3 linked regions of the Homo sapiens genome follow. The protein of the gene in region 1 interacts with the protein of each later gene in a pairwise test. Each region holds a gene or a part of one and is shown in the gene's direction. Other genes may lie near its edges. The genes, in order: NELFCD, CACNA1A and AAMP.

Region 1 (3,648 bases):
GTGGGAAGGGCACGCTCTTGCTAGAGCTGGGGCGTTTTTTCCTGAAGGAGATGGGAATCTTTAAGCAGGAGAGAGACGTCAGTTTTGTGGCTTACAAAGATCACTGTGGCCACGGTGTGAAAGATGATTGAAAGGAAGGAATAAGACTGAGACTTCAGGGGAATGTTGCTACTGCAAGCATACAAAAAATAAGGAAGAGCAGAGGCAAATGTGGAAAGAAGGACCACCTTGGATAGACAGATGGGAGATGGAACTGATGAGTCTTTGTGACAGGATGTGGGGGTGGGGTGAGGGAGAGAAGCTGAGGATGATTTTCAGGTTTGGGGGGTAACAAGTAGATATATGAAGGATACCTTTACGGAAATATGGGTTGTAGGAAGAAGATCTGTTTCTAGGGAAGAGATGTCAGTTTTGGACCTAAAGAGTTTGGATACTTGTGAGACATCTGACTGGAAATGAGAATGGAATGTTGGATACCTGAGTCTGGAGCTTAAGAGAGGAAAGACGGAGAGAGAGATCCAGGCTAATTCTAGATTGGTGAGCAGGTAGATAGCATGACCCAAGAGGTGGTGGAAGAGGCAGGTAGGTGAGTGCCCAGGGTGGAAGCCCAAGAGAACAGACAACGTGGGAATGAAGCTCGGGGTGAAGTCCGGCCTCTGTCATGCCCTTAGGGGCTCAGCGTTCCCCATGCAAATCTGGTCTGAGAGAAGACTCCACAGCTTTTACTGGGAAGTCATCGGGTTCTGTCTGCTCCCAAAGCACTGCTTTTAGGATCTTAGTCCAGATCAGGAGTGAGCAAACTTTTCTGAAAAAGGCTAGATAGCAAATATTTTAGGTTGTGCCTGTCTCTGTCTTAACTACTTACCTCTGCCCTTACAGGGGGAAAGCAATCATAGACAGTCCTTAAAAGAATGGGTGTGCTGTGTTCCGTAAAAGTTTATTTGCAAAAATAGGAGAGGGCTGGATTCGGCTCTGGGTCATAGTTTGCTGACCCCTGGCCCAGCTCTTGCCCCATTATGTTAGAGTAGGTTGCATGGAGGTCTGTCTCTCCTATTAGTTTGTGAACTTCTTTGATGGAAAAAGCCTTGTCTTGTCTTACATTTTCTTAGGTTCCTTGGTTGATGAGCATAGTGCAGACTGAATGTTCAAAAAGCATCTGCTTGTTAGTTAGGGTGGCAGTGTTAAAGTTGGACAGGGTTTGGGATCACAGTCCATCCTCACATGGTCATTAGCAGGTGAAGAAGCCTGCTTTGCCCTTAGATGGAGTGACAGGCCTGAAGTTGCTTCCACATAGAATTGGGACTGGAGTCCAGCCAGAAGTGTGGATGCAAGGCGAGTTAGTGGTCTTTACTTTCTAATGGTAAGTGATGGCTCACGCTTTCAAGAATCAGGTTGTTACTCTTCAGTGGCATGTATGAAATAAGAATAGTGAAAACAATAATAATAATAGTTTACTATTTATTGCACTGTTACGAAATGTCAGGGATTATGCTGGGTTCTTCCAAAAATTAGCTCATGGAATCCTCACAACAGCCAAATGGGAATAGGCGTTATTATTATCTTCACTTAACAGAGGAGGAAATGGACACTCAGAGAGGTTGGGTAACTTGTGTGAGCATGGAACGCGGTTTGCCAGGGAGGAGTTGTACACACCCACTCAGTGTGATCCTGGATCCCATTTTCCTAGCCACTCACTATCTGTCCAGCCCATTTCATGAAATTGTCATGAAAGTCAAATGAAATAATGTGTGTAGAATACTTTCAAAATGGGCAGCATTATACGATTTAAGGTGAGATTAGGGTATTTGTATTAATGAAAAAAATATCCTGGCTCTTCGCATTTACCAACAGCAGGAGGATGATTCTGGAGAAGGAGAGGATGATGCGGAGGTTCAGCAAGAATGCCTGCATAAATTTTCCACCCGGGATTATATCATGGAACCCTCCATCTTCAACACTCTGAAGAGGTATGTGAGAAAGGTGTCTGTATTGGGAGGAGGCTGGGGGTAATTTAGAGAAAGTTTTGTAATACACCCAGAAGGTGCTATGTAAAGCAAGAGTAACGCGAACTGAACTAAAGGCTTCAAGGGGGGGTCCCCTCTGCCACTTTTTTTTTTTTTTTAAATTTTTTTAAGACAGAGTCTTGCTCTGTTGCAGTGGCACAATCACCGCTCACTGCAGCTTCAGCCTCCTGGAATCAAGCAGTTCTCCCACCTCAGCCTTGCAAGGTGGCCACCACAGGCGTCTGCCATCATGCCTGGCTATTTTTGTTTTTGTTTTTTGGGAGAGACAGGGCTCCTTACGTTGCCCTGGCTGCTCTTGAACTCCTAGGCTCAAGTGATTCTCCCACCTCTGCCTCCCAAAGTGCTGGGATTACAGGTGTGCACCACTGCACCCAGCCCCCTCCGCTGCTTTAAAAATTTTGAAACCTGATTCTCTTCCTCCTTCCTTACCTTCCTGTTGTCCATCATTCCATTCATTCGGGTGTAATTGCTGTTGTTACTTTCCCTAGGTATTTTCAGGCAGGAGGGTCTCCAGAGAATGTTATCCAGCTCTTATCTGAAAACTACACCGCTGTGGCCCAGACTGTGAACCTGCTGGCCGAGTGGCTCATTCAGACAGGTGCTTTGTGGGTGTCCCCTGTCCTGGCTAGTTACCCCCACTTTTTTAAAAATAGACTTTTGGGTCCTTATAACACTGATACAATGCCTTCTTTGATTTCCTGGTTTCTGAGACTTGTGTAAGAAAGAGCTGAACTTCTTACTCATTTTTATCTTTATCTTACTCATTTGTATCTGCTTGCCTCTTATCTTTGATTCAGTAATTGAGGTTTACTGGTAGCCTGCAAACGTGATTCTCATTGAGCTGTTTTCCCTACCATGTTGTAGAATTATAGGATTATACAGTGTGTGTTCAGTGTGTCATTTTCAAGACGTCTATTACAGCAAGCAGTAAATGACGGATAATTTAGGACTGGCTGTGATTATGGCTTTTAGTTAATATGATCAAAGTAGAGTCTTACTGTAAATCCACGGAGCCGGGTGCAGATGACATCACTGAAGTGCGTGCTGTCCGGAAGCTTGTGGACACACTGCTGTCCCGGTGATTAGATACAAGTGTGTCTCTTTTGGCTGCCATCTGCTCCCTCCTCACTGGGCAGGGATGTTTTTCCATCCCCCTACCTGTTGCTGGGGCCATTTGTCTTTATCCTCAGTGAGGCTCTGCAGATGGTGCTGTCCTTTCCATGAAGTTAGGGGTGGACCAGACTTGTGTGTTCTGTTCTGTGCTGCTTTTTGGTCTTATCATTGATAACTACTTTGAAGAGTTCCAAAACCTTACATGTATAAGTGGTCAGAAGCAATTCTTTGGTATTTGATTCACATAGAGACTTTTGACCATTTGCTTTCTAAAGCCACACAGTGAATGGACAGCTTGCCATTGTCTAGTTGCTTTTATTCTCTTTCAGGTGTTGAGCCAGTGCAGGTTCAGGAAACTGTGGAAAATCACTTGAAGAGTTTGCTGATCAAACATTTTGACCCCCGCAAAGCAGATTCTATTTTTACTGAAGAAGGAGAGGTGAGAAATTATTTTTCTTTGCCTAGTACCAGGCCCTAGGGTCTTTTGCAAATTCCCTGTGTACAGTGGAGC
Region 2 (3,648 bases), on another chromosome or scaffold:
CTAAATATTTCTGCCATTAAAAAAAAATGTTTCAGCATATCCTGAGAGTGAAAAAAAAAGTGTGTAGGTACTTAAATAAAGTCTAATATATGTACAGGCAAGTACATATATTCAGATGCATAGATTTTTACAAAATGAACACACCCACGTATCCAGCACCCAGGTCCCGATCAGTGCCCTGGAAGTCCCCCTCCCCATACCGCCTCCTAGTTGCTCCCCCAACAAGGGTACCGCTCACCTGACTTCTAAGGTTCATTTTGCCTCTTTTAAACATGTAAATGGAGTCACACAGTACGTTCTTTTGCCACTGGCTTCTTTTGCTCACATCTGTGTATGTGACTCTACTACAATCTATCCATTCTACTGTTGATGGGCATTTGTGTCATTTCTGTTTGTGCCACTGGGAACATTCTTGTGTCTTCTATTATTTTTTTCCCACAGTTCTCTTAGATAGGAGTGGAATCGCCCCTGCTACTTTTTGATGCATGTGTTGTGGGATGTGTATTTGGAAATGGTGTTGACTAAGGGTTGCAGGTCGATATGGAAAGCAGGTTCCTCCCTGTCTTGTTTAAGAGAAGTGAGTGAATGATCCATGAACTTGTCGGTATGCTCACAGGGCCTAAGAGTGCTACTTCCAAATGTAAATTCTGGCATGGTACACTGGTGAAGGATGCAGTCTTGCTTTCTCCACACTCGGGGCAATTTGTCACTATGATTTCTTCCTCTTTCATCCCTCAGTGGGTCAAACTTGAAGCCATCAATGACAATTAAGAATCCTCATTTATTTCATTTTTTCCCCTCTTCCTAAGTGAGGAAACCCAAATGGAAGTCTTTGATGTTCAAATTTACATTGCCGTGTTTTTCTCATGCCAGGCAGCAAGCCGTCTTGACCACACACCTTGGTTTCATGTTTTCATTGACTGGAATTGTGATTCAAATAGGGCCATGAGGGTCTCTGATGATTGCCGAAGAGCTCAGATCTGTCAGCTCAAAAAGGAGCATCTGTCAGCCTTCCTAGAGTTCCCTCCCCACTTAATGCCACTCACTCCTTCTACCAAGTGCCAAGGTGAATGTCATCTTTCCAGCCCTCCCTGTGCCACCAGGTCTCCCACTGAACATGATGTAGAAACTCAGGCCATCGGAGGAACACTGGAAGCAGGTCAGTGTATTATCACGCACAGTTGCCTGAATTACACGTAGAATTCCAGCTTTTCATCCGGTTTGCAGAAATCTTAACAAGACACCTAAAGTCACATTGACATCAGGTGACATCACTTTGACATCTGTGGACATTGGCTGATTGGCACTCCTCTCATTTTTTTTTTTTTTTTTTTTTTTAAGAAAAGCTCTCTAAAGAGAAACTTTCTGCATGAGAAGCGCTGGGAGACATGGGAGCAGGTTATCAGACTCTTGGCCTGTCCTGAGAGATAGAATGTTCTAGAAGGTACTGCCGTAGAGGGCAGGATGGTGTCACTTACGTGATCCTTGTACTAGACCGGCTTGGCTGGTATTTCCAGAGGAGCAAAATTCTGCGAAGTAAAATTTAGCACGGCTTTTCCAATGGGAGTATTTTCAAAAAGGGTGCAATTTCTTATCCACAATTCCCCAATCCAAAAAGCTCCAAAAACCAAAAGACGAGCTCATATAGAGGTAAAACCTAACCTGAACTGACTTCAGTTTGAAGTCTTAATTTACAGTTTTCATTCATTCTACTTGGTGTGCATTTGAGTATGTTTTGCAGCAGAAATGTTAGATGTGCTTGATGATGAGGTGCTGCTTCAGCTCCTGACTGTTAGGTCTGCATTGTAGTCCTGTCAAACTTTCAGGTGTATGGAAGTTGTCTTGTTAACAGGATGGTTCTGGTCCAGCAGGATTTGGGTGGGGTCTGGGATTCTGCTTTTCTAGCTAGCTTCTAGGGATTCCCCATGTGGTAAGTTCATGGGCTAGGGTTGGAGTATCCAGGTTAGATCATAGAGACATCTTGTTATCATTTTTCTTTTCCTTAAAAATCAGGTTTATAGGGGCCGGGTCTGGTGGTTCACGCCTATAATCCCAGCACTTTGGGAGGCTGAGGCCGGTGGATCATGAGGTCAGGAGTTCGAGACCAGCCTGGCCAACATGGTGAAACCCCGTCTCTACTAAAAATACAAAAATTAGCCAGGCGTGGTATTGTGCGTCTATAATCCCAGCTACTCGGGAGGCTGGCAGGAGAATCATTTGAACCTGGGAGGCAGAGGTTGCAGTGAGCCGAGATTGCACCACTGTACTTTTTTTTGAGACTCTGTCTCAAAAAAAAAATAGATTTATTGATGTATAATTTATTTGTAGCAAAATTCACCCTTTTGACATACTGGTCTGCAAGCTTTGACAAATGGATGTAGTTGTGGCCACCACCCAAATCAAGATATGGGACAGTTTCATCAACCCTAAAATACCCCCACAGTGCCCCTCTTGAGTCAGCACCCCACTTCTCCAGCCCCTTCAACCACTGATCTGTTCTCCATCCCTACAGCTTTGCCTTTTGCCGAAGGTCATATAAATGTAATTTCACAGTATATAGCCTTTTGAATGTGGATTCTTTTACTCAGACTTTGAGATTCATTCATGCTGTTGCCTGTGACAGTAGCGCCTTCCTTTTTGGTGTTGAGCAGGATTCCATGATATGGATGGACCAGAGTTTGCTTCCCAGCCGAAGGACATTGGGATGCTTCCAGTTTCAATGATTATGAATAGAGCTGCTATAAACATTGGCTTATGGGTTTTAGTGGGAACATTTCATTTCATACATTTCATTTCTCTTGGGTAAATTAACCCAGGAGTGAGATTGCTGAGTTGTGTGGTAGGTGTATGTTTAATTTTATAAGAGGCTCTCAAACTGTTTTCCTAAGTGGTTGTACCATTTTACATTCCCATCTTTGCAATGCGTCTAAAAGCCCTGAGTTCTGAATTCCAAAGCACGTCTGGCCTCGATGGCTTAGGATTAAGGATGTGGATCTATGGAAAGGAGTGGAAGTAATAGTGTTAAATCCCGGTCAGAGAAATAAGAAAGATTAAGGATGTCATTCAAAGCTATGTGCCTGCACTAGAGAGAGAGAAAGAAGGGGTTCTCTTGGGTGGGGTTCCACCCCTCCCTGGTAGTTCTACCATTCCCCAGGAAAAAGTCAAGCTCTGAGGCTGTGAGACCCATGATCTTTACCCTGTTCTTCACCACTGCAACCCCAGTGTGTGGGACAAAGCAGGCGTCCTATAAACGTTTGCTGAGCAAATGAGAAAAGGTACCTGTCTTCACCCATTAACTAAATTGTATAACATCTATCTGATCTACCCTTGTGCCAACGTTTTAGGATTTTGATGGGTTTTAGTTGCAGGGGGTTGAGAGACTGTCCATGAGATTATCAGACCAATGAAAGTTTCTGAAATGTTAGTGCTTGAGTAGATTGGATGCAGCGGCCCCTTGAGAATGAAGTCTTTCTTCAGGGACTTGGAGTGGGAGGCATCTGTTGGGTGCGTAGGGCTTATGCTTCCCCCTCCCTGTTTCCCCCCCAGTAGCAAGCACACATATACACTTTCTCAGCAATAAAAAGCACCGCCGGGAAGGTGGACTCCATCCAGAAATGATCAGAGCCTAAGAGCCGTGCAGTAACGCAT
Region 3 (3,657 bases), on another chromosome or scaffold:
GGCAGAGGTGTAGAGTGGACAGAAGGGGGAAGGCATAGGAGGCTGGGACTTGGTCTGGTTGAGTGAGGGCCAGCAGTGTCTCCCAGCAGACATGGGAGTATTGGTTCCTAGAGTGGTGGTGAGTTCCAGCACCTGTTCTGCTCAGTCCCGCCCCTCTTTTTTTCCTAGCTGGTCCTTTCAGTGGGCCAGATACCAGAATCACATGCCCCCAGCACCAGGTACCCTATTTTTTTCCTCTGTTTTCTGCCCACTTTTCTTTGAAGGCCATAAAGACTCTGTGACTTGTGCTGGTTTCAGCCATGACTCCACTCTAGTGGCCACAGGGGACATGAGTGGCCTCTTGAAAGTGTGGCAGGTGGACACTAAGGAGGAGGTCTGGTCCTTTGAAGCGGGAGACCTGGAGGTAAGATCATCAGAGCGGGAGTCAGCTCTGTGGGGCCTTGGGTTGTTGGGGGTGCAAGCTTGGGAGGCCAGTTCTGCCTTTATTGCGCCAAGCCAGCTCTGAGCCAATGCGCCCCAAGGCACAGGAAGAATATCTACCTGCTACCTGGAAAGTCCCCGCGGAACCCCAGAGGCAGGAAACCTTGGGTGGAGCTCATGGGGCAGGCTTCTAGGTGGGATGGGGTGACGGGCCTCCCTGCTGCCCCTTCCTCCCTGTCCAGTGGATGGAGTGGCATCCTCGGGCACCTGTCCTGTTGGCGGGCACAGCTGACGGCAACACCTGGATGTGGAAAGTCCCGAATGGTGACTGCAAGACCTTCCAGGGTCCCAACTGCCCAGCCACCTGTGGCCGAGTCCTCCCTGATGGTGAGAGCACCTCCCTTGAGTGACCTTTCCTGGGTGCAGAGGCCGAATCCCGGGATATACACCTCCCAGAGCAGCCTTCTGGGTCACAGCCGGCAAAATCTGAGGCCTGCTGTTTGCAGTGCTGACCTCCTGGGCCCCAAAGTTCACAGCGCCTCCTTCCTGCTCTGAACTCACCTGTGATTCCTGGGGCAGTGTCTGGGCCCTTCCACTCTTCTTTCCTCTCCCTCTCCCCATTCCCTTGCTTAGTGTATGTGAGCGTGCCCTCTGCCCTCTCTTCATCTGTGCCTCTCTTCAGGGAAGAGAGCTGTGGTAGGCTATGAAGATGGGACCATCAGGATTTGGGACCTGAAGCAGGGAAGCCCTATCCATGTACTGAAAGGTATCAGAGGTGGGGGAAGTGTTAGCCTGGGCCTTTGTAGGGAGGGGCTGAGAACCTGGGGCAGGACTCAGAGGGGAGGTAGGACGAAGCCTGAGCTGCCTCCCTGCTCTATGCTAGGGACTGAGGGTCACCAGGGCCCACTCACCTGTGTTGCTGCCAACCAGGATGGCAGCTTGATCCTAACTGGCTCTGTGGACTGCCAGGCCAAGCTGGTCAGTGCCACCACCGGCAAGGTGAGTGGACCTGGAGCCCGGCTGGGGCCTCCGCTTTCCCGACTCCTCTCCTTCCTTCCTGGGTCTTCACTGTCTCCTCTCCCCACCGTCTTTCTCTCCATCAAGCACCCGGATTCCGTGTCCTCCTCTGATCCTCTCTGGCTTTCAGGTGGTGGGTGTTTTTAGACCTGAGACTGTGGCCTCCCAGCCCAGCCTGGGAGAAGGGGAGGAGAGTGAGTCCAACTCGGTGGAGTCCTTGGGCTTCTGCAGTGTGTGAGTGAGGATGGGGAAAGGGGTTTGTGGGAGGGGCCTGGGCTGGGGGCCCGGGAGGACGGCAGGGCGTGTGAGTCCAGGCCCTCATGAGTCTTCATGGTACGCTCCTCTGGCCAGGATGCCCCTGGCAGCTGTTGGCTACCTGGATGGGACCTTGGCCATCTATGACCTGGCTACGCAGACTCTTAGGCATCAGTGTCAGCACCAGGTATGGGCAGCTGGAGCTGGGGTCCCTGTGGGCTGTGTCCATAGTGGTGGGGAAGCCCAGGCCTCCAGGAGCATCTACCCCAGATCTGGCTCCTGCCTGGCCCTTGTGTGTGGCTGTCCCTCTTTGAGAATTGGGAGCAGATGGCTCTCAGCTCTCCTGCCAACCTCCGCCCTGCCTCTGTCATTCCTCGGGGCAGTCGGGCATCGTGCAGCTGCTGTGGGAGGCAGGCACTGCCGTGGTATATACCTGCAGCCTGGATGGCATCGTGCGCCTCTGGGACGCCCGGACCGGCCGCCTGCTTACTGACTACCGGGGCCACACGGCTGAGATCCTGGACTTTGCCCTCAGCAAGTAAGTGAATTGGCCAAGGGCTGGGATCTTTGTGTATTTGGAAGGTGGCAGTAGTATGTAGGGGACACAGGATCCTTGGGGTGTGGGAAGGGATTCCTAAGGCAGGAATGCAGAGAAGCCTGAGGGTTCACAGCCCAGCCCCCATTCCAGTGGCTGACAGTGACCCTCCGGGGCCCCACGTCTCAGTCATGAGGGAGAGGCTGAGACTGATTTTCCCCATCGGAGTCAGCTCTGCTTCTCCCGTGCTGGGGGCTTCCTCTAATCCCCTCCATGCTGGCTGCAGAGATGTCGGCCCAGTGCTAGGCACTAGGGCCCTAGAACTGAGGGTGTGCTGGAGGAGCCCACCCTAGGGCCCCTAGGTGGTGGGCTTGGGTCCCCCAGTCTCTGCAATCACATGCTTTCTGTTTACAGAGATGCCTCCCTGGTGGTGACCACGTCAGGAGACCACAAAGCGAAAGTATTTTGTGTCCAAAGGCCTGACCGTTAATGGCTGCAGCCCCTGCCTGTGTGTCTGGTGTTGAGGGGACGAAGGGACCCCTGCCCCTGTCTGCCAGCAGAGGCAGTAGGGCACAGAGGGAAGAGGAGGGTGGGGCCCTGGATGACTTTCCAGCCTCTTCAACTGACTTGCTCCCCTCTCCTTTTCTTCTCTTTAGAGACCCAGCCCAGGGCCCTCCCACCCTTGTCCAGACCTGGTGGGCCCTTCAGAGGGAGGGGTGGACCTGTTTCTCTTTCACTTTCATTTGCTGGTGTGAGCCATGGGGTGTGTATTTGTATGTGGGGAGTAGGTGTTTGAGGTTCCCGTTCTTTCCCTTCCCAAGTCTCTGGGGGTGGAAAGGAGGAAGAGATACTAGTTAAAGATTTTAAAAATGTAAATAAAATATACTTCCCAGAGACAGAGTCTGTGTGGATTTTGTGATGGCTGGACCCTAGGAGGAGCTAGCGAGGGCCCCGTCAGGGCAAGGCTGTCCCGCAGAATCGGCTGGATGTTGAGATGTGCCAGCTCCCCATCTCCAGGGGTGGTCTGTGCGCACGACACTTCTTGCCTGCCTGGAGTCGGACTCTGCCTTAATCCACGCGTATGTCTGTAGGTTCTTTCTATTGTTGGTGTGTTGAGCCATTTCCTCCTGCCTCGCCCTGAGATATGGAATGAGATAATCATAAACGGCCAGAGGAGCTTTATTCAGTCAGTGCGGGGTCAAACAGAGGCAGGGTCTCTGATCCAGAGAAGTGGGGCCCGGTAGAGACAGGCTGGATGGCTGAGCTGGACGGATGCTCTGGTAGGAGTCAGCAGAGGCCCTTCCTTTAGTTCAAGTCCAGGTCGACACTGCTTTGGCTGCTTGGGTGGTAGGCAATGCTGGGGCCGGGACTGTCCCGGGAGGCTCTTCCCCACAGCCCCTGCAGGCACCTTTGGGCGGCTGCCCTCCAGG

The links.
Region 2: the proteins of NELFCD (region 1) and CACNA1A interact in a two-hybrid assay, tested with the Homo sapiens proteins (one study listed by BioGRID and IntAct).
Region 3: the proteins of NELFCD (region 1) and AAMP interact in a two-hybrid assay, tested with the Homo sapiens proteins (one large-scale study listed by IntAct).

What each region holds. Positions count from the first base shown.
Region 1 is NC_000020.11:58,984,242-58,987,889, forward strand, and holds part of NELFCD (negative elongation factor C/D), read left to right. Parts: intron 1-1,851; coding exon 1,852-1,967; intron 1,968-2,512; coding exon 2,513-2,622; intron 2,623-3,466; coding exon 3,467-3,576; intron 3,577-3,648. UniProt on the Homo sapiens protein: Essential component of the NELF complex, a complex that negatively regulates the elongation of transcription by RNA polymerase II.
Region 2 is NC_000019.10:13,499,848-13,503,495, reverse strand, and holds part of CACNA1A (voltage-dependent P/Q-type calcium channel subunit alpha-1A), read left to right. Parts: intron 1-3,648.
Region 3 is NC_000002.12:218,263,593-218,267,249, reverse strand, and holds the end of AAMP (angio-associated migratory cell protein), read left to right. Parts: intron 1-263; coding exon 264-403; intron 404-662; coding exon 663-807; intron 808-1,102; coding exon 1,103-1,186; intron 1,187-1,303; coding exon 1,304-1,419; intron 1,420-1,567; coding exon 1,568-1,671; intron 1,672-1,788; coding exon 1,789-1,879; intron 1,880-2,075; coding exon 2,076-2,230; intron 2,231-2,641; coding exon 2,642-2,717; 3' UTR 2,718-3,121; downstream 3,122-3,657. Other genes in the region: GPBAR1 (G-protein coupled bile acid receptor 1), read right to left, coding at 3,533-3,657. UniProt on the Homo sapiens protein: Plays a role in angiogenesis and cell migration. In smooth muscle cell migration, may act through the RhoA pathway.